Regions from separate parts of the Homo sapiens genome. Here regions 1, 2, 3 and 5 are each linked to region 4. The links come from fine-mapping of genetic effects on gene expression. A gene starts in region 4. Each other region holds a variant in brackets. All regions are shown on one strand. Distances are between the middles of the regions.

What was found. PIP is the estimated chance that this variant, and not a neighbour inherited with it, causes the effect.
Region 1: its variant is the best candidate, but not a certain one, in a credible set for the expression of C14orf132 in whole blood (INTERVAL, PIP 0.83).
Region 2: its variant is the best candidate, but not a certain one, in a credible set for the expression of C14orf132 in whole blood (INTERVAL, PIP 0.67).
Region 3: its variant is the best candidate, but not a certain one, in a credible set for the expression of C14orf132 in whole blood (TOPMed, PIP 0.64).
Region 5: its variant is the best candidate, but not a certain one, in a credible set for the expression of C14orf132 in tibial artery (GTEx, PIP 0.87).

The regions. Positions count from the first base shown.
Region 1 is chr14:96,062,141-96,066,259 of GRCh38, reverse strand. All of the region lies in intron 1 of C14orf132 (chromosome 14 open reading frame 132), which reads right to left. Among named protein-coding and RNA genes, the nearest start is that of C14orf132, 25 kb to the right of the region's middle. RefSeq lists a silencer at 3,375-3,552. The variant C/T (reference allele first, on the strand shown) is at 2,251.
Region 2 is chr14:96,130,049-96,134,153 of GRCh38, reverse strand. No RefSeq gene overlaps it. Among named protein-coding and RNA genes, the nearest start is that of BDKRB2, 73 kb to the left of the region's middle. The variant T/C (reference allele first, on the strand shown) is at 1,669.
Region 3 is chr14:95,982,065-95,986,183 of GRCh38, reverse strand. No RefSeq gene overlaps it. Among named protein-coding and RNA genes, the nearest start is that of C14orf132, 55 kb to the left of the region's middle. The variant C/T (reference allele first, on the strand shown) is at 1,794.
Region 4 is chr14:96,037,784-96,041,887 of GRCh38, reverse strand. C14orf132 (chromosome 14 open reading frame 132) reads right to left here and starts at 2,526. Exons shown (of 2, transcript NM_001252507.3): 1 at 2,361-2,526. The coding sequence starts at 2,387. RefSeq lists silencers at 2,417-2,466, 2,487-2,676.
Region 5 is chr14:96,091,221-96,095,339 of GRCh38, reverse strand. It overlaps C14orf132 (chromosome 14 open reading frame 132), which reads right to left. Exons shown (of 2, transcript NM_001252507.3): 2 at 1,369-4,119. Among named protein-coding and RNA genes, the nearest start is that of C14orf132, 54 kb to the right of the region's middle. RefSeq lists enhancers at 1-330, 331-831, 2,998-3,167. The variant G/A (reference allele first, on the strand shown) is at 1,886.

The DNA of each region.
Region 1 (4,119 bases), 24 kb before region 4:
TCCAGGGCCCTGGGGACCTTGTCCTCCACGCGCATCCCATGGTCCATGGTGAGAATTCAGGGGACTGGGACAAGCCCCAGAGCCACAGCTTGCATTCAGAGGAGGCTGGCTAAGAACCTTAAGAAGAAACAGCCAAGGCCTGTTTGAGATGCCCCACCTCCCTGGCTGTACCTGAGGAGCTCCTCCACGTGGCTGTGGCTTCCTGAGGTGGGGATAAGGGGGAGGAGGCTGTGCCTCTGTTGGCTCAGCTATGGGAAGTTCAGGCCACTTTCACTGGATCTCAGCGGTCAAGCAAAGCAAGAGGATGGGGAGTTTAAAAATTTTCCCTTGGGGAAGAGCTGGCAAAGGTTGCCATAAATTAGTATTTATTCTACCCCAATTAACTCGATAGCATCTTTGAAGTGATTCAGCAGTGTCATTGGAACCAAATGGGCGTCCCCTGTGTGGGTCAGCAGCCTCCTAATCAGATTAAATTCCTTGCCACTGAGCAGAATAAAGTCTCAGGGCCTTAGGAGGATGGGTGGGGAATGTGTTTGTTCAATTGTTATCTCGTTCATTGGCTGAACAGACCTTTTACTGAGCACCTACTACATGCTGGGGGTGGAGGGGGTCAGGCTAGAAGCCAGAGGTACCAAGAAAAAAACTATGTAATCCCTATTTTGGAGGAAGAGAGAGAGAAGGGGAAAGTGGTGGGGGGTGATGAAGGCTAAGAGGAGAGGACAAAAGGAATAAAAGTGAAACTGAGCATCATTCTCCATCAGCGAGCACACGCATACTGGAGTGAAGCGGCGGCCGGGGCAACGGCAAGCCCAGGATGTTTACCTCCCTAAGTGGATCCTTTTGGTTTATTTTTAAACATCCTCTCCTCTATATGGCAAAATTGTCTTCAGTAGTAATCATGGCATGAAACAACAGCAACAAAAGGCCAGATTCTCCACTGGAGATGCACATCGGAATCTCCAGGAGGACGTTCTAAAATGCTATAGTCTCCTCCAACCAATGTAGCTCTCAGGGGAACACACTGCACCCTCCTCCCCAGGGGCACCTGTATGAGCAGAAGAGGAAGGCACAGAGGTGGCCATCCTGTGCCAACACAATCCGGCTCAGAACCCTGCAGCCTCACAGTTATTTCAGTACACCCAGCTGGGTCAGAAGCCAGAGAAAACTCCCCCGACCGCTACACATGATGTCCAGGAAGTCACGTCAAAACCCCCTACCTATGTATGGGAGGAAGACAGCACACTGGGTTAGGAAGAAAACAGGGCCAGAGAAGCTAAGGGAGGTGGCACCATGTGTGTGCACAATCCCTGCCAACCAGCAAAGCCTGTTCAACAGAGCTGGCCAGAGCGGAATCCCAGCATGGAAAATGCAAAATGCCAGGAGAGCAAATTAAGATGAGGACGTGACTTTTTTATTTTTTAATTTTTTTAATTTTATTTTTCCATGAGTTATTGGGGTACAGGTGGTTTGTGGTTGCATGAGTAAGTTCTTTAGTGGTGATTTGTGAGATTTTGGTGCACTCATCACCCGAGCAGTAGACACTGCACCGTATTTGTAGTCTTTTATGCCCCCTCTTCCACTCTTCCCCCAAGTTCTCAAAGTCCATTGTATCATTCTTGTGCCTTTGCATCCCCACAGCTTAGCTCCCACATACCAGTGAGAACATATGATGTTTGGGTTTCCATTCCTGAGTCACTTCACTTAGAATAAGAGTCTCCAATCTCATCCAGGTCACTGCAAATGCTATTAATTCATTCCTTTTTATGGCTGCCTAGTAGTCCATCATATATATATATACATACATATACACATATATATACACATATATATGTGTATATATGTGTATATATATACATATATGTATATGTGTGTGTGTGTGTGTGTGTGTGTGTGTGTATATATGCACCCTAGTTTCTTTATCCACTCGATGATTGATGGGCATTTGGGTCAGTTCCACGATTTTGCAGTTGTGGATTGTGCTGCTATAAACATGCCTGTGCAAATATCTTTTTCACATAATGACTTCTTTTCCTCTGGGTAGATACACAGTACTGGGATTGCTGGATCAAATGGTAGTTCTACTTTTATTTCTTTAAGGAATCTCCACACTGTTTTCCATAGTGGCTGTACTAGTTTACATTCCCACCAGCTGTGTAGAAGTGTTTCCTGCTCACCACATCCCTGCCAACATCTACTGTTTTTTGATTATGGCCATTCTTGCAGGAATAAGGTGGTATCGCATTGTGGTTT[C/T]GATTTGCATTTCCCTGATGATTAGTGATGTTGAGCATTTTTTCATATGTTTGTTGGCCATTTGCATATCTTCTTTTGAAAATTGTCTATTCATGTCCTTAGCTCACTTTTTGATGGGATTGTTTATTTTTTTTATTACTGATTTGTTTGATTTTGTTGTAGATTCTGGATATTAGTCCTTTGTCAGATGTATAGATAGTGAAGATTTTCTCCCACTCTGTGGGTTGTCTGTTTACTCTGCTGACTGTTCCTTTTGCCGTGCAAAAGCTCTTTAGAATAATTAGGTCCCAGCTATTTATCTTTGTTTTTATTGCATTTGCTTTTGGGTTCTTGGTCACCAAATCCTTGCCTAAGCCAATGTAGGGACGTAACTTTTGTTGTTCCTCAAAAGGATGCCACATGGCTGGGTGTGGTGGCTCACCCCTGCAATCCCAGCATTTTGGGAGGCTGAGGCAGGTGGATCACCTGAGGTCAGGAGTTTGAGACCAGCCTGGCCAACATGGTGAAACCCCGTCTCTACTAAAAATACAAAAATTAGCCCGACGTGGTGGCGTTTGCCTGTAGTCTCAACTACTGGGGAGGCTGAGGCAGGAGAATCACTTGAAACCAGGAGACAGACGTTACAGTGAGCCAAGATTGTACCACTACACTCCAGCCTGGGTGACAGAGCGAGACTCTGTCTCAAAAAACAAACAAACAAACAAAAGGATACCACAGTCCTGTTCCTTGGGTGGACAGTACTTTTCAAGAGGTCAGTTCTTATACGGAACCTCCATCCTATTCACCCTCTGTTCCTGAGGGGATGGCAGCTTGGACAAGAGCAAGGAGGCCTGAGACCCGCCCCAGCTGCAAGTCAACGGCTGCTTCACAGCTCCCTGGCCTCTGCTTACCCAGCTATCAAACAGATATGACGATCCCTGCCTCATCCACCTTCCAAACTCTTTAAAAGCATCAGATGAAAAAATTTTTTTCTGTGATAAAAGTACTGACATCCACTCTTTTTGTGACTCTGGGCAGAGAGGGTCTGTGGTGTGTCTTTGATCCTCAGTGTTTTGCACATAGCAGGCACTCAATAAATGCTCAGTGGCTTGTTTGGGCAAAATCAAGTCTATATTATGCTCCATAAGTAACCTGTTTGTTGGAAAGAAAATCATCTCAGAAACAAGACTGGATTCATCCTGAGAGTATGTAAGGGCACTCCGAAGGCCAAGGAAGAATGTACCTGGCAGCCCAGGAGTGAAGACAGCGCTTTAATCCTCTGTTGAGAAACCTGGGTTCCAGTTGCTGAAATGTTTGGCAAAGGGATCTGGACCACTCCCTAGCGGTTCTGACACGGATGCAGCTCAGAGTGGTGGAATTGCGAGGATGTGAACCTTAGCAGCCGTGAGCAGGGAGCTGGGCAGGAGGACTTTTTCCTAAGAGGCAGGAAATGCCTCCTTTCCAATTGAAACAGGCAGTGCTGGTGTTTCAAATTATTACCATAAAGACACATGTGGAGGGCTGCAATCTCCATGTCAGCTTTTGCAAAAGGCAGGGGAGAGAGAAAGTAGATTGACGAAAGGAAAACACGAAGATCCATTGGTCCTTTTTGTTTTCTTTCTTGATTAATGGGGAGCATTTGGAGCTGGTGATGCTCATCTCATGGTTGAGGGTGAAAGAGGACTAGGGGTTCAGGCCAGGGTGCAGTCAGGCTCTCTCTCTGGTAGCATAGCCACACATCCAGTCCTTCACTCCAAGCCCATTTTCTTTACCTGACCTGTGGTTCAACACCCTAGTGGGCAGACTGTGGAAGGTTCAGAGAAGACATATGCACATGGCAGGGACTCGATCCATGGAGCGACTTGCTGGAGAAAAGCCATGAGCAGACAA
Region 2 (4,105 bases), 92 kb before region 4:
TTATTTCAGTTCTTTTGGGTATATATCTAGAAGTAAAATTGCTGGGCCATATGGTAATTCTATGTTTAACTTTCTGGGGAGTCACTCAACTGCTTTCCACACTGGCTGTACCATTTTACATTTCTACCATCAATATACAAGGGTTCCCGTTTCTTCACATCCTTGTCAGCACTTGCTATTTTTCATTTCTTTGATACCCATCCTAGTGGGTGTGAAGTAGTATTTCATTGAAGTGTTGATTTGCATTTCTCTAATGACTAACATGTTGAACATCTTTTCATATGCTTGTTGGCCTTTTGTATATCTTCTTTGGAGAAATGTCTATTTAAGTCCTTTGATCAGTTTTTAAGTGGGTTAGAATAGTTTTTAACCTCAGAGCTGAAAAGGGCTTTGGGGATCATCTATTGCCTGCCCAAATTTCTCCCATTTTACAAATGAGGAAACAGAAACCTAGGAAGGTGCACAGGTATCCTTAAGATCACACAGCAATGACTCAACAAGAAATCAGAGCTCTTGACTGAATTCCGGACACCCCACATAGCCTATTCTTCACAGATTTGACCCAAGGGCAGATCACAAGTCTAGACAGCTGGACTTTGGCTCTAAGGAAACCTCTAGAGCAGTAGATCCATGGTCCCATTGATCTGGCTTGCTGATCGCCCAGCTAATGGAGGTAGGGACTCCATTAGCAAGTTAATGACCACAGAGAGTGAAGCCAGCAGCACTCACACCTTAGTTAGCCTCACTCATCCTTCCAGTCTTTAACCCCTCCAGGTCTGTGTCCTTCCTGCTGCTTAGTTTCACCATATTTTCATTCATATGCAAATAGATGGACGGGTGGATGGATGGGTGGGTTGGTGGTGAGGGGGTAGATGGATGGGTGGGTGCATAGATGGATAGATGAATAGATGGATGGATCAATGGATGGATGAATTGATGGGTGGCTGAGGAGGTGGATGGATGGATAGATAGATGGACAGATAGATGGATGGATCGATCTATCTGTCTGCTCTTCTTTGTGCTCAGTTTTCTCGCTGAGAATGTCTGTTTCATAGTTGGCACTCACTGATGATGCAGGCTGAGTGGTTTTGTCGTTGTCCCTTTAGTTGACCTATTCTTCAGATTGCGGAATTTAAGACATTCACAAAGGCACAGTTCATGGAGGGAGCAGAGAATGGTTCATTCTTGCCGTTAATGTCTTCCTTCTCTGGATCTCAGCCTCTTCAATGCTTCCTCCCTCTCCTGTGTCTTCAGCCTGCCCCATTCTATCTCCTTATTAGTTCCCATCAGCAAAAAACATGCCTAGCTCTCTTATCTCTGCAAATGTCTCCCTTGAAATCATGCCCCACCCATTAGGGCTTTTTTTTTTTTTTTGTCACCCCACACCAGCCATTGACAGGCAACTTCTTGAACAAATTACCTGCTCTCTGTAACTCCTATTACCCATTCTTGCTCATTCTTTAACCAATCTTCTGGCTTTTGCCCCCAGCCCCCTCACTGAAGTTGGTCCTTGCCATGGTGACCTGCATCTCTCTAAATGTGGCCTGTGCTTTGGAGACTTTATCTTGTACACCTCTCCACAGCATTTATACTACTGACTGTTCCTCCTTAAAACCCACTCCCTGGCATCCTCTGACAGTCACCTCTCCTGGGTCCCCTCTGCCCTGA[T/C]CTGTTCTTCCTCAGACTCCTCTGCCAGCTCCTCCTCTTGTATCCAGCCCTCAAATGCTATAGGGTCTCATAGTTCTGTTCTAGGCACTCTCCATGCCAATACTTTCCATGCAGCAGATAATGACCATGAACCAGTTTATGATCCCCTGATTTCTATAGAAAACCAAGATCTCTCTAAACACTCAGACTACAAAGTCAACCTCTCATGGGCACACATTTCCCTTGAATGCCTCACTGGTACCTCAAACTAGTCATATGCAGGGCTGAATCCTTAGTCTTTCTCTCCGAATTTGCTTCTCTTCTCAGCTTCCCTTCTACAACATGCTTAAGTGTATCATTTGGGAATCTAAGTCTCAATTCTGGCCATGACATTTTATCAGCTCTTGTTCTAAGGGTTGCCCAATTTGCATATCAGGAAATCCCACAGCCAAATGGATGGGGGTAGCTGAGTCAATGTGCACACGCACAGTATATAAGATCAACCCTGAGGGTTTGCAAGTTTGCATGTAACCGATCATAAGGGCATGAGCAGCAATGTCACTAGGGGACCAATCCCAGAAGGAAATGTCCCACTTGGAGCAGAACTCTGAGCTTTCATAGCCCAGGCACCCTTGTTGCCACCACGGAGCTGCATGCTGTGTCTCCTGTCCCAGTGCGAGAGGGTGAGCCTCTGGCTGGAAGCTCCTTGCTCTGAGAGAGCCCTTATAGCAAATGCAGTCCGCAGTGAGAAGCGACAGCATCCATAGCTATTGGGCCACCAATAGGCTCTTGAGATACTCACCTGAGGGTGAGGTACTGTGGCTGTCTACCCCATCCTAAAAAAGTGTTTGTGTGGGGGCAGGGGGGTGCATCACTAGGAAGCTTTTGTTTAGAAAGACTGAAAAATTCTAGATAAGATATTGTTTTATATTGGATAATTCTACAATAAACATGAGTAATTTGAGAAAGCTATCTTTCAGTTTCCACTTATTACACTGAAGCCAGTGGGGCAGCCTGAGCAACATACTGAGACCAGTCTCTACAAAAAATAAAAAATTTAGCCGGGCATGGAGTATGCGCTGGGCTTGGCGGCATGTGCCTGTAGTCCAGCTACTTTGGAGGCTGAGGCGGGAGGATCCTTGAGCCCAGGAGTTTGAGGCTGCAGTGAGCTATGATTGTGCCACTATACTGCAGCCTGGGTGACAGAGCAAGACCCTATCTCAAAAAATAAAAGGAGCCAGCAGAGTGATTGCACTGCCACTCACTGAAGGTCTGAGATCCCCTTTTCCTCCCTCCCCTCCCCCTACTTTGACACCCTCTCAGGTCAAGAGTCCCACTATCTTCCCAGTTGCTCAAGCCTGAATGCCAGGATCCCTTCTGGCCCTCCCAGTTTACACCCCTCAGCCAATCCATCGCCAAGTCTGCCAACTCTACCTCTACAGTGTCTTGAGAATTAGTCACTGGAATGAGACTGCCAGAGTGTGAAACCTGGCCCTGCCTCTTCACTACTACTTGTTAGCAAATGATGTTGTTTCTCAACCTTTCTGTGCCTGAGTTTCCTCATCTGTAAAATGAGAACTGTGCACAGAAACCGTTGTACTGATGTAATTAATAATACTCCCTTTCTCTCTTGAAAGTGTCCTAGTTTGGATAAATTATATGGTCAACCTAACTGATATGAATATTATGAAACCTAATCAAGGTTCCCTCTTCAGGCAATACGCCCATCCCCCTGCTGGGAATATCACTTTTATCTCACTCATTAATGCAAATAAAAGTCTCGATCATCATTCATGTCAGAGCTGCCTTCCTTTGTCCATTGTAAGCGCACAGGGACTGTGGCCCGACCTCCCCCTGGTGCCCCCAGCCCTGCCCTGAGTCCTTCACTGGGAACCATCCTGTGTCTCACCCGCTGTTATACTGTCTCCCAGGGGCAGCCCATGGCTGATGACTGGCTGATTAGGGATATGAAGATCCAGCCCATTTACCGTAATTTGGGGCAACTCTGAAGGGCCTCCCCAGCTCCAGAGTTTCACATGGGATTGTCTGAGGTCTCAGTTGTACCACAGTGTGGGTCCCTTCTCTCTTCCCAATTCTATCTTCCTCTCTTCCTACTGGTGAATCCTTCGAGAGCAATACCCAGTAACCATTCTGAATCTGGTTCCCCATATTACAGTTCCTTTCCAGAGAACTGAATCTTAGACACTAATAACAATCTTGGTCAACATTTCTTTCCAGCGTGGCTGTGAGCAACTTGAGGTCAGGGCCCATGTTTTCTTTGCCTTCCCGGTCTTGGCAAATGGCACATAGATCGTGCTCATCTTAGGTTGGTTGAAGTGCCTGAAATGCAACTGGAAGGGCGAGGTGGTTACTACCCTGGGAACAAAAGAGGTAGATAAGTTAGAGACCTGGGTTAGGCACTTACCTCAACCTTCCTCTCCACCAGGAAGGCGGTCTA
Region 3 (4,119 bases), 56 kb after region 4:
AGCAAGGGAAAGCAGCAAGTGCTGATGTAGAAGTTGCAGCAAGTTATCCAGAAGACCACTGATGAAGGTGGCTTCAGTGTAGATGAAACAGCCTTCTACTAGAAGAAAAGGCCATCTAGGACTTCCATAGCTGAAGAGGAGAAATTAATGAAATTGATTACTGAATAAATTACTGAGTATCTTAAGTCCCCTGTTGAGACTTACTGCTCATAAGAAAAGATTCCTTTCAAAATATTACTGCTCATTGACAACGAGCCTAGTCACCCAAGAGCTCTGATGGAGCTGTACAAGGAGACGAATATTGTTTCGATGCTTGCTAGCACAACATCCATTCTGCAGCCCAAGGATCAAGAGGTAATTTTGACTTTCAAGTCTTATTATTTAAGAAATACATTTTATAAGGCTATAGCTGCCATAGATAGTGAATCCTCTGATGGATCTGGACAAAGTAAATTGAATACTTTCTGGAAAACACTCACCATTCTAAATGTCATTAAGAACATTCCTTATCCATAGGAGGAAGTCAAAATATCAATATGAACAGGAATTTGAAAGACATTGATTTCAACCCTCATGAATGACTTCCAGGGGTTCAAGACTTTGCAGAGGAAGTAACTACTGATGTAGTGGAAACAGCAAGAGAACTAGAATTAGAAGGGAAACTTGAAGATATCAGTGAATTGCTAAAATCTCTTGAGATGAAGTCAACTCCCAGTGAAGATGCTTTGAATATTATTGAAATGACAGCAAAGGATTTAGAATATTACATACAATGAGTTGATAAAGCAGTGATAGGGTTTGAGAGGACTGACTTCAATTTTGAAAGAAGTTCTACTGTGGGTAAAATGCTATCTAAGAGCATACAATACTACAGAGAATATTTTGTGAAGAAAAGAGTTAATCGATATGGGAAACTTCATGTTTGTCTATTTTAATAAATTGTCACAGCCACACCAACCATCAGCAACCGTCACCCTGATCAGTCAGCAGCTTTCAGCATCAAGGCAAGACCCTACACCAATGAAAAGATTACAATTCATTGAAGGCTTAGATGATTTGTTAGCAGTTTTCAGCAATAAAGTATTTTAAAATTATGGTATGTACATTTTTAGACATAATGCTATTGCACACCTAATAGCTTACAGCATGTGTAAACATAACTTTATATGCACTGGGAAACCAAAATATTCATGTATCTCACTTGATTTTGGTTTTCACTTTATCGCGGTGGTCTGAAATCAAACCCACAGTATCTTTGAGGTATGCTATACACTCGTGATTTATTTGCTCCCAGCCAAATCCATGCATCAGTAACTGCACCCAAAAAACTATTTTAAAACTGGTTCTCAATCTGCATTATTTCTTCACTCCCTTGCCCTGTGCCCCACCCAACTCAATGGACGCGCCACTGAAGTCATCTGGAGTAGTAGGTAGGAAAATCCTGCCCTTACTCTGATCTTTGCCATGAATTGATCTTTACAGGGAAATTTGGTTGAGCTTTTATACCTTAAAGACTTTTTTGCTCCATGTCTTCCTGTTTGGGATCCAGAAGCACTTGGCTTTTCATGGTCTAATCTTCACATTTCTGGATTCTCTCTATTCCTCCCTCTCTGCTCCCCTCCTCCCAACTTTTTTTTCACTGTAAGCTCATCTCTTCTTATAATACCTTATGAATGCAGCCAATAGCAACCAACACATAGCACTGAAGACATGTTTTCCAAGTCCAACCCTAGAGTTGTCAATTTAGTAAGCACATGGTCTGCTTCCGAAATAACCATAGGCAGGTTTCACCA[C/T]ACATGGTAGTGTTTTAGGACAACATGAATTGACATATTTGCTTCCTAAGTTATAATTTTCCTCAATGCCTGTCACCCCACAATGAAGCAAGTATCACGTATTTTAGGTTTGTTGCCATAACAGAGCTTTACTTCCAGCCTCAATTTCTGTTTTCATCAAGATAATCAGTGCAGTTGCCATAGCAAATACATACTCTGAAATTGTATGGCTTATGTGATCATTGTAAGAGCTTGGGCAGCAAAGATCAGTGTCTAGGGGTTCCCTGGAAACAGCTCTGAGAAGGACAGTTGTATATAGAAGGTTTACTGAAAAGTGTCTTGGGGATGCAGCTGTAAGGAAAGGAGGAAGGAGGACTGGGTGGAAGGAGATGCTGACTCGCAGTGTGGTTGCTGCAAAGCCTCAGCCAGTCTTACGGGGAGCTCTGGAGCTGGGATGGTCTTCAGTGTTGTCTCAAACCAGAAAAAGAGAGCTGGGCCTTTGTATCTAGGCACTGGCCAGCCACTGGCTACTGGCCGTTCTTTTGGAAAGGATGTAAGCTTGGGCAAGGCCAAACCCCACGGGGAGGGCAATGTCCAGTGAGGGATACAACTGTGACCCATCAGCCCCCTGAAGAGAGGATATGAGAGGAACACCACATCATCCATCCGAGGTAGTATAAAGGCTTGGGTTTTACAGCAAAGGCACCGTCGGTGATCCCAGCTGCCCACATCCCTGGAGCAGGAAGACTGCAGTGGACACCAAGAAGCAAAGGGCATTTGGTACTGACGATCCCAGCTGCCTATCCTCAGATTCCTTTGAATAGGAACAGCTTCTTCTCTTTTTCCTGCCATGTGTCAAGCAAGGGCTTCTCATTTGTAGAAATGAAGCAGAAACCTCATTTAAAGATGCCTCTGGGAAATTTGGTTGTGATGCAGCAAAGAAGGGGATGGGAATGCAGGGATGTTGTCGAGTTGAATGCAGACCGGCTGACAGTATAGAGGTGCTCCATAAAAGGTCAAAGAAATGAACGACCCCCAAACTGGGAAAACCCTTATGCCCAACGATATTAATCCCAGAATCATTTACCAAAGGGGATATCTGAACAAACCCCAAACATCCAATAATAAGGACTATTTAAGCTAGCGTGGGCATGAAATCTTGAAGCCAGGCTGCAAGCTCCTTGGAAACCGAGACGGACCTAGCACAGAGCCCAGCTCCAACACTGAGTGGGTGATGGATAATCCAATCAGCACACTTACTGGGGCATAAAAATGAGAACATTCTGCAACTGCATACAATGTGGAGGCCATGATGTTAAGACTAAAAGCTGGATTCAAAATTGTAGGCTCGCTGTAAAATAAGTAAAGTGTACATGCCGGTGAAATAAGGCAGGAATAGAAATGAGAAGGGAAAGAAAGCAGCTATAAAGGGCTCTAGGCAGTATCTTTGGAAGCTGAGAGGCTGGGGAAAGCCGAAGAAGGAGAAGGAGCTAGGGGCAGGGTCCGGGGAAAAGAGACGTAAGCCCAGACACAAGCCATCAGCAGGCGAGTGTGGGAACAGGGCAGCCATTTCGGCTCCAGCCGGTCAAGCCAGCTTATCTCAGGGAAGAGAGTTCTCCAAGTATGGGTGGGTGCACTTACCTTCTTCAGTTAGAAGTAGAATCTGACTATCCCTTGGTTCTTGGGCTGGATATTGTCTAAATCTCTGGGATGAATCCAGCTCAGGTGAGTTAAGCTACTTGTAATGAACAGAGGGTACTGGGATGAGAAGTCAGATTTGATCACATCCTCTTTATATACTTTTCACTGCACACCTTTGTTCCGTCCAAACTGGGTGTTGTTTGAACAGCATCTAGGGTATGTGCACACTTCGTCATGTCGTCACTGCCATTGCCACCATTGTCATCATCAATCACATGTATTGATTCGTCCACTGACAAACATCCATGCACAAGGCACTCTTCTAGACGCTGGGGTAAAGTAATTAACAAAACAGTCAAAGCACCTGCCTTCACGGATTCACGGTGGGAGGAGCCAGGGAAAATAAACAAGTTGCACGTAGCAATTGAATAAAACTAAGCAGGGAAGAGGTATAGAGGTGCAGGGTGCGGGTGATGAGGAGGGACCAACCAAGGGGAGGGGAGGGGAGCAGCCAGGGAAGCAGGAGGAATGATGGGGTCATGTATTGGACTCGGGACATCAAAGCAAGGGAGTGTTTCCAGGAGTGAGGGAACCGCCAGGGCAGCACTGCTGCTGATGGCTCAGCTGACCTTGACCACAGCAACTTTGGGGGAGGGGCAGAGGTGTCAGCCTGATTGAAGGGGGTTTTAGAGAGAACAAGAGGAGA
Region 4 (4,104 bases):
AAGCTTTTATAAACATGCAGAAAGAAAATCTACGTCCTATTCAAGTTTGTCCCACAGGATCCCTGTCCCAGTGCCTGATACGGAGCTTGTCACAAGGCAGGTACTAGACATTTGCTGAGCAAGTGGATGGATGCACCAACATTTCGCTGCAAACTGCCCCCTGCTGAGGGAAAGACTGCACAGAGAGACAGTGACTGTCACACACACCTGGTGGCCACAGGACACACCAGGAGCAGGGTCTGAGCACTTGCTCCAGCCAAGCACTGCGAAGTATTGCAGGTAGGGAAGTAACAGTTCCCATCCTTATGGGGATAATGGGATGAATCAACAGCAGAAAGCAATCTACTAGAAAGGCACAATAGTAAGCCCACTTCCCAGAGGGAAGAGAAGAGAGAAATCATTCTGAAATAGATCTGTCCTGTACCTTACATCGTATCTTTCTCAGGATGAAGCAATAAGGTGGAAAACCCTTTGCAGATACTCAGGCCCAGATGTGAAATCCAGTTCTCCTCCTTGCAAATGGCATGCTCTTGGGCAAATTATTTAATCTCGTTTAGTGTCCTGACCTGTAAAATGGGGCCTCCGTCATGGACTTGTAAGGATTTGCTGTGATAAAATATGCCAAGCACCCAGCGTCTGGCACATAGTAGGTGCTCAACAAACCTTAGCGTCTGTTCTCATATGTGTGGTACTTCATGTTTCTGTTCCTTGCAGCTAGCACAGTACTGCGCATGTAACCAGTGTCAAAAATGTGTCAAGGAGAATACATTGACCGAGTGGAATGTGAATTGTAAACAAAAAAGGAAAAATAGGAACCTGGTCTCTGGGCAGATTCTGCCTGAAGACGTTAAAAAGCCCTGTATTTATTTCGTCAAGTTGCCATGGCAGCAACTGATGCTCCAGCCAGCTCCAGGGTTAGCAGGGATCAGTTTATCTTGTTAACCATGGAAATTCCGGAGGTTCAGTGGGATCCAGAGGGGAAGGCAGACACAGTTCTTCTCCAGTCTAGAAATAAATCCTGGAAAGCCTCCTTAGTTTTCATGTAGCTAAAACCATCATTATCTAAAATGATGTTTACATGACAATTTTTATAAGTATGGATTTAGGCACAGGAGATGTAAAATCAGGCAAAAAAAAAAGGGCCAGCGATACTCAGAAGGGCAATTAGCATCATGGAAAACTTAAGGGGCTGCCGGAGAGCCAGGATCTAGACCCCCAGAACTAACTTGGGGCTTCCGCATCTTTTAAGCCTCCATTTGCAGACTCGCTGTCCACACACAGTCTGGATTTTGCTGTCACTTTTTAAACAGGCTTCCACTACAGGTGAAGCTTGGGGAAAAAGCAAGTGTCCCCTCAAACTTCGTTCCCTGTAAAAGAAAACAGCAGCAGATGGGGTCCCTGCCACACACCCTGGAGACAGAAGGGAGCCTGGGTGGCCTCCCGACCTCTCTGCTCCCACCATAACCAACCAACACAACCAGAGAAGGTGCAAGATGTGGCTTTGGTAGATTGGGACTTACTCTCCCAGGCCAAACGCAGCCCTTCCCTGGAGCCAGCTCTGGGTCTTCTCTAGGGTCACAGACTGATGGAGAAATCCGGGATTTGTCTTTGTTCTGGCTCAAGAGAGTTAAGGCACAGAAATAGAATCATCACCCAAGCTCAGAACTCCAGGGCATTCTGCCGGAGGAAAATTCAAGCTGTGAGAGATTTGTTTTTCCGGCCACTGGGAGCCTGTTTGTGTCGGGGAGGGGGGTGGGGGGGTTCTGGCCGCGCTGGGCACTGGTGGCTCCATCAGACTCTACACAAAGCAAAACAGGACAAACGACCGCGGCGCGTCGACGCTTGGCGGGTCACGGTCACAAAGCGGGTCTCAGAGCCTTCCTCAGGCGGCGGCAAAGGGGGCGCCCGAGGTCACCGGCAAGAGACAGATTACTGGCGCCTCGGGAAAACAGAGTGGGGAAGGGCGAGACTGTGTGCCCATCCACGTTCGCGCGGGTCTGAGCTGGCCCGGCCTTGGAGGGCTCCGGGACCCCAGAAGGGGGACAGCAGTGGGGGATGGGCAGAAGGGGGCGACTCGGGCTGCCCAGGCTCCTCGCAGCCTTCCTGCCAACGAGAGGGGCCCGGGCGGGAACAGCTCGAGCCGCGGGGGTGCGGGGCGCGCAGCCCGCCCCACCCCGGGAGAGCCGCGATCGCCGCCCCCGACGCGTGCACCAAGTGGGGGTGTCCGGCTCGGGACAAAGGACCGGGACGCGGATCGCGGGCGGGCGCCACTGCCCAGCCCCAGCGTGGAGGGCGAGACCGTGGCCCCGAACCTCCCCAAACTTGGCGGCCCGGGGCGCGTGGGGGGGACGCCCCGTTACCTGCGCGGCCATAAAGGAGAGATCCATGGTGTCGCTGCAGCCAGCGCTCGAGTCCTCGCTGCTGCCGCTGCCGCTGCGGGTCAGCCGCCTGCACAGTTGGCGGGGATCGGGCTGAGCAGCGAGCGTCCGGAGACCGCACGGCGCACTCGGCTGTCTCTGGGCTTCTGGCTCCAGATCTCTACTAGGCGGAGGGCCCCGAGCGCGGGGGCGGGCGGGGCGGGGTGGGGCGGGGCTCGGCGGACGGGGCGCCCCTCCACGTGACCACTCCCCGCCCCACCCCCGGGGCGGGGTCCGTCAGAAACCCCAAGCGCTCGCAATCGCCTCCCTTCGTGGGCGGGATGGGGAAACTGAGGCCCGAGGCCGCCCCGCTGGTTGGTGCAAGAACCAGCCTGCAACCCAAGTCCTGAGCTGTTGGCGCCCCGCCCCGTGCAGTTGAACCCAACCCACCCGGGGCTGTGGGCAGCGCTCTCTTGGGGCTGACACGTTATCCCGAGCCTGAGGACCAAGATCGGAGTGACCTGGCTTTCCACGCCAACGCTCCTCCCAGAGTCCGGTGTACTCCCGGCTCGGCATCTGGGCAGAACGAGGTTTAATCCTAGCCCTGCTTTGTTGTGCAGCTTGAGCAAGATAGTGTCTTTGAGCCTAGATTTCCTCATCTGTGAAAAGAGAATACAGAACCGAATAATTAAATGAGATAGGGAATATAGCACGCGGTGTCCTCAATAAATGAGAGCCCTAACATGGCTAATCATCCAATAGAGACGAGGCTGTGAGTGGTGTCTTCGAGGACCGCACGGTGCTCAGGTTGCACAGCGGGTACTCCATGGCTCTCAGCTCAAACCAGTATCGAAAATCATGCAGGTGCCACAGTTCAAGTAAGGGGAACAGAAGAGACGCCCACAGGGGCCCATTGCTCTGTATGTGTGTGTGTGTGTGTGTGTGTGTGTGGTGGACACCACAGACTTGGTGACACGTGGAGGCTTTGCCCTCCGGGGGCTCACTGGGAGGGAACCAGCTGTACTCTAAGGAGTCTCAGTGAGTACGACTGGTCCCTTTGGGTGATGTCTCTTCCAGGTACTTTACACTCATGGTCATCACGAGCCTCTGTGAGGGGCAGCCTGGGACTCCCAGACTTTGTCACAGGCAAGGAAGCTGTGGCACAGGGAGATGGAGGGGTTTGTTCAAGGTCCCCCGGCAGCTGGGGGCCCAGTAGGGACTGTGGCTATGGGAATGGGACCAGAACCTCACTGACCTACAGAAGGCTTTCAGTGTTATCTTTCCTGTAACTTTCCTTTCTTTTCTTTTCCTTCCCTTCCTTTCTCCCTCCTTTTCTTCCTCCTCTTCCTTCTCTCCTTCTCTCCCCTTCCCCCCACTTTTTTCTTTCTTTTCTCTTTTCACTTTTCCTGTCATGCTTGCCTCCTCCCTTCCTCCTCTGGTCTCTAAACCCTCCAGTTCCCTGGCCCTCCCTTCCCTCCCTGTTTTTAGCCAGTACTGCACTCACCACACCCATCATTCCTGCCACCTCCCAGCCTAGTCCACACGGGGCCTGCCCAAACAGTCCATGCCAAGAGCCGCCCACCTCCTCCCACCCTTCCTGTGGCCAATAGCAAAGCAGCCTGCCCAGAACTGCCCAGGGCTCCCCGTCTGCTGTAAGAAATATTATGTACACGGCATACTTCACAATAAAAGGGCGTATAGGTTGTGTGTGTGCAATTTGAAAAATAATATAGCCTTGCATAGGTTA
Region 5 (4,119 bases), 53 kb before region 4:
TCAATTAAATCAATTAAATGTTAGCAAGGAGGGTGGGGCAGGAAGTGAGGGACACGCTGTGGCCTGGGCTGGACTGGCTGTAGCTTCTTGAGACACATTCAGCAGCATTGGACCAGGGATGCCTCCTTTTCTTGAAAAACCTTGCTGCTAGCCATTTTTGCTATTTCAGAATGATGCTTATCAGTCTTGAGAACGCAGTCCTTTGGGCCATGTGAAAGCCTCTGCCATCTTTGCAAGGCACACGATTGGGAGGGAGACCCCACCTTATCAGCCACACTGGTGCAGGGCGGAGGTGCCATCCAGCGAGCGAGGGAAGATGCCAGAGGAGCAGGTTCGAGGGGCAAAATCAAGAGCCCCTTCCCAGTTCTCTTGCTGCCTCCCTGCTCCAGAAACTGCAGGCCTCTCTACTTGAGAACCAGCCCTGCTTCCCTATGGCCAACAGTGGCCCATGGCCCACCATGGTGCCCACCCTGACATTCAAGGCCCCTTTCAGCTGGCTGTATCCCTTCATCCTCAGCAGCCTCAGATCCACTGCTGCCTTGACCTTTATCCAGCCTGGTCTTCTAGCCCGAACCCCATGCAACCTCTGCTGTGCACCTGTTTCTGCAGATTCCATGCCAAGTTAAGTATTGCCTCCTCCAGGCAGTCCTCAGTGAGCTCTTTAGTTGCTGCCTACAAAGTCCATGCAGCTCTTGACATTATGGAACACCTTCTTGTTCTAACCCCTCCCTTGGCTCTCTTATCTGTTGGACTGTTGGCAGGCTAGGAATGGCCAGGCTCTGGTCTCTCCTCATCCAGCAGGCTAGCCTTGCTTGCATCCTCAGGGTTCCAAAGACAGAACAAAAAAAAGGCTTCTTGAGGCCTAAGCCCAGGACTGACCCAGAATCAGGTTTTCAGTCCTGGTTCACCAGTTACATGGCCTTGGGCAAGAAACCTCTGCATGCCTCAGACTCCTCATTTGTAAAACGAAGATTAAGTGAGTTAACATGTGTGGAAAGAGCTCAGAGCTGCGCCAAACACCTCATAAGTGCTATACGAATGTTTGTTACTATCAGTGAACTAATAAGGAAAATGATATGGTCCATGTTCCTCATAGTGTTGAAATGTACCGGGCTGGTCATTTAGGTATCATTCACTCATTCACAGAATATCGGATGTTTGCTAGGAGCCAGGCACTGTGCTGGGTGGTGGGGATAACACATTGAATAAGATAAGTTTGCTCTTAGATGGCTCAGATAGTTGGGAAAACTGAATGTAGCTTCCGTGATTTGATTTGCTACAGGTGTGATGATAGAGTGGTATCAGGAGGGGATAGGGAGGAGGGGACCTGTCCTGCCTCGGTGGGGCAGGAAAAGCATCAGAATGGAGGTGACGCTGGGGCTGAGCCATTTAAAGCTGAGTAGATCATCTCCTTTGCATAAAGCACAGATGAGAACCAGACACAGAGGAGTTCATGTTTTCTTCTTTTCTCTTTTCAGTTATCATAATAGAAAATGACAACAGCAGCAACGCTAACAAAGTGAGATTTCACAGATACATTTTTACGTCTTTTAAGGTTAGATATTTTTAATCAAAAGAGCACAGCGAAATCCTTTATTAAGAAAGAGTCTTCACTGTAGAGAAGTCAGTGATCGCATGGTGAAACCAGGTGCTTGGGTAGCAAAGGACTCCAAGAATAGTTAAAATACCTTTTATGAAGTCAACTGCTTACATTTACAAGTTGATCATGAAAACATCAGTAAGACACAAAAACATTTCCGATGCTCTCGGCATGAAGAATTGGTATCTGGAGAGTAGCAAGTTATAATAGTAAGGTTTCTGCAAAAGATTAAATAGTATAAAGAATATTAGTATGCCTTCAACTGGCAGAAATAGGACTGGGCAC[G/A]TGGAAAAAGGTCAGAAATAAGAGAAGATGCAGATTTGCTCAAAGGCTGCTACCCAGCACTCCCATGCCCACCCCATTCCTAAGCTCTTCCCCAAGCATACTCTTCATATGCATTGGTGAGGGGCCAGGTCCCTGGAGGTCCCAGAGACACAAAGTTAAGGGTAGGGAAAAGTTCAGCCCCACACTCCCATCCACTTTGTAGGGCTTTCTCCCTCCAGTCTGGGGGTCCCCACAAATGCCCAAGATGGTGGAAACAGTCACATGGATTTCTAAGAGACCACATGACATGCTGGGAGTTGCAGATCACTGTCCTCAGCTCGCATTATTTGAACGCAGGGCAGTGACCATGATCACTGCTGCTGCTCAGAAGAGCTTTAATTTACTCAATGACTCACAAATGGGGAAAAGTGGAAAGCATGCATAGTTTCAGAATCAGAGATAGGATGGCCAGCACAGGGTCCCCTGACCTCGGCACTATTGGCATTTTGGGGCTGGATAATTCTTATTTGTGGGGGGCTGCCCTGTGCATTGTAGGATGTTCGGTGGCATCCCTGGCCTCCACCCATGAGATACCAATAGCAGTCCCCACCAAGCTGTGAGAATCAAAAATGTCTCCAGACATTGCTGATGGCCCCCAGCCCTTCCTTGAGAACGACTGGCCTCATGAAAGCCACCACTAAGTCTCCTAGTGAAAACTCGATAGTTAGGTGTCCTGGGCTCAAGACCCCTGTCTCCTGAAAAGCTCCACCTGGCAACACTCTCAAGCCTCTCAGAGATTCATTTTCCTCAAGTTAAAAGGTTGGAAGCTCCCTTCTGCCAGCATATAGAGCCCTTGTCAGAACCATCTGCATTGTTGGGACAACGCTTCGAACGGCAAACGCAGTAATGGTGTGGTTCTTTAAGAAACTGGGAGAAAGACAGCCAGTGAGACAGATACAGGGGACACAGGGGTGTTGCTCAGCCACGTGGATGGGGCTCGGTGTGGAATGGGCTCTGATTCCCCCAATAATCGAGGCCTGCAAATTCCCTGCAAATATGCTGTGCACATCTGTCAGGATTTATTTCCAAGGCAGAATGGGGCTCAAACCTCCTCTTGGGGAGGCAGGAAATCAGCTTGAAAAAGGACCCAAGAGCAGATGACAGCCTTGCCAAATGTCTGGATGGAGCCATCCGGGCAGGCGCGAGGCTGCCGCCACGGTCAAAAGACCAGCATCCAGAATCCCCCGGGGACCGCACCACCTACGCAGCCTCTCCGAGGACCAATGTCCACGTCATTCTCTGCTCTTTTCTATCTTGATAATAAATGCATGACTTCTACAGTGACTCAGAACACATCATACACTTTTATTTCAGAATTTATGGCGTCCATTTTGTGTACTTTTTGGCTCTTCCATTCTGCTTCTGGCAGTAACTGTTTTCTCGCTCCAGGGAGTCTTTGATCGTCTTCAGTCATGAAGATTTGCATTGTTTTGTCCTTTGTCACTTTCCCTCTTCCTCAAAAAGAAACCCAGTAAATGCTCAAGGTCTGAGCTCAGAAGGACGCGCTGGGAATGAGAAGGTGCTGTGATAATTCTGGTTATCCAGATTTTTCAGAGAGGTCCCTTTTCCTGCTTGGAAGCTGTGGGCTCTGTCCTCTGGGTTCTCAGTACTCAGTTCAACCACCTTCTCCTCCATCCCTCTCCGTGAGTGACCATGGTCAGGGGCCTGTGGAGTGGGCCAGGGTGGGTGGGGCTGGGGCAGGTGAACATAGAACATTCAGGATCTGGCTGTTCCCTTTGGCTCCCTGAGCAGAACTCCCTGGGCCTCCCTGTCATAGCAGCTCAGCCCAACCCTGGCACTTGCTCGGGGACAATCACTGGGCATCTGCCAGGACGAAGCAAAGCGGGCCGATGGCAGCTGCAGGGAGCACAACCCACCTCGGGGCTGGGGCAGGTAATCCCGGGCAAGCCCTTTGCTTCCCACTGAACGCACAACGTGCTGGACCACGGACCCCTGGGCCAGGAGCCCAGACACTTGTCAGCTCTCCACTAATTTTCCACACGGCCTCAGCTGCTCTCCCCGAAAAATTAAAGGTCTCGATTAGATGCTCTCTAAAGCCTCTTATCACTGTGAGGTTCTGGAACTGATAAATCCCTGTGCACTGCCGCCTGCCCCTTTCCTGGACTTACACTTGAATGTGGCAATCTGGCTATAAGCTCTTCAGGACCAAATCTCAACCCCAGCCTCCGAGGCCT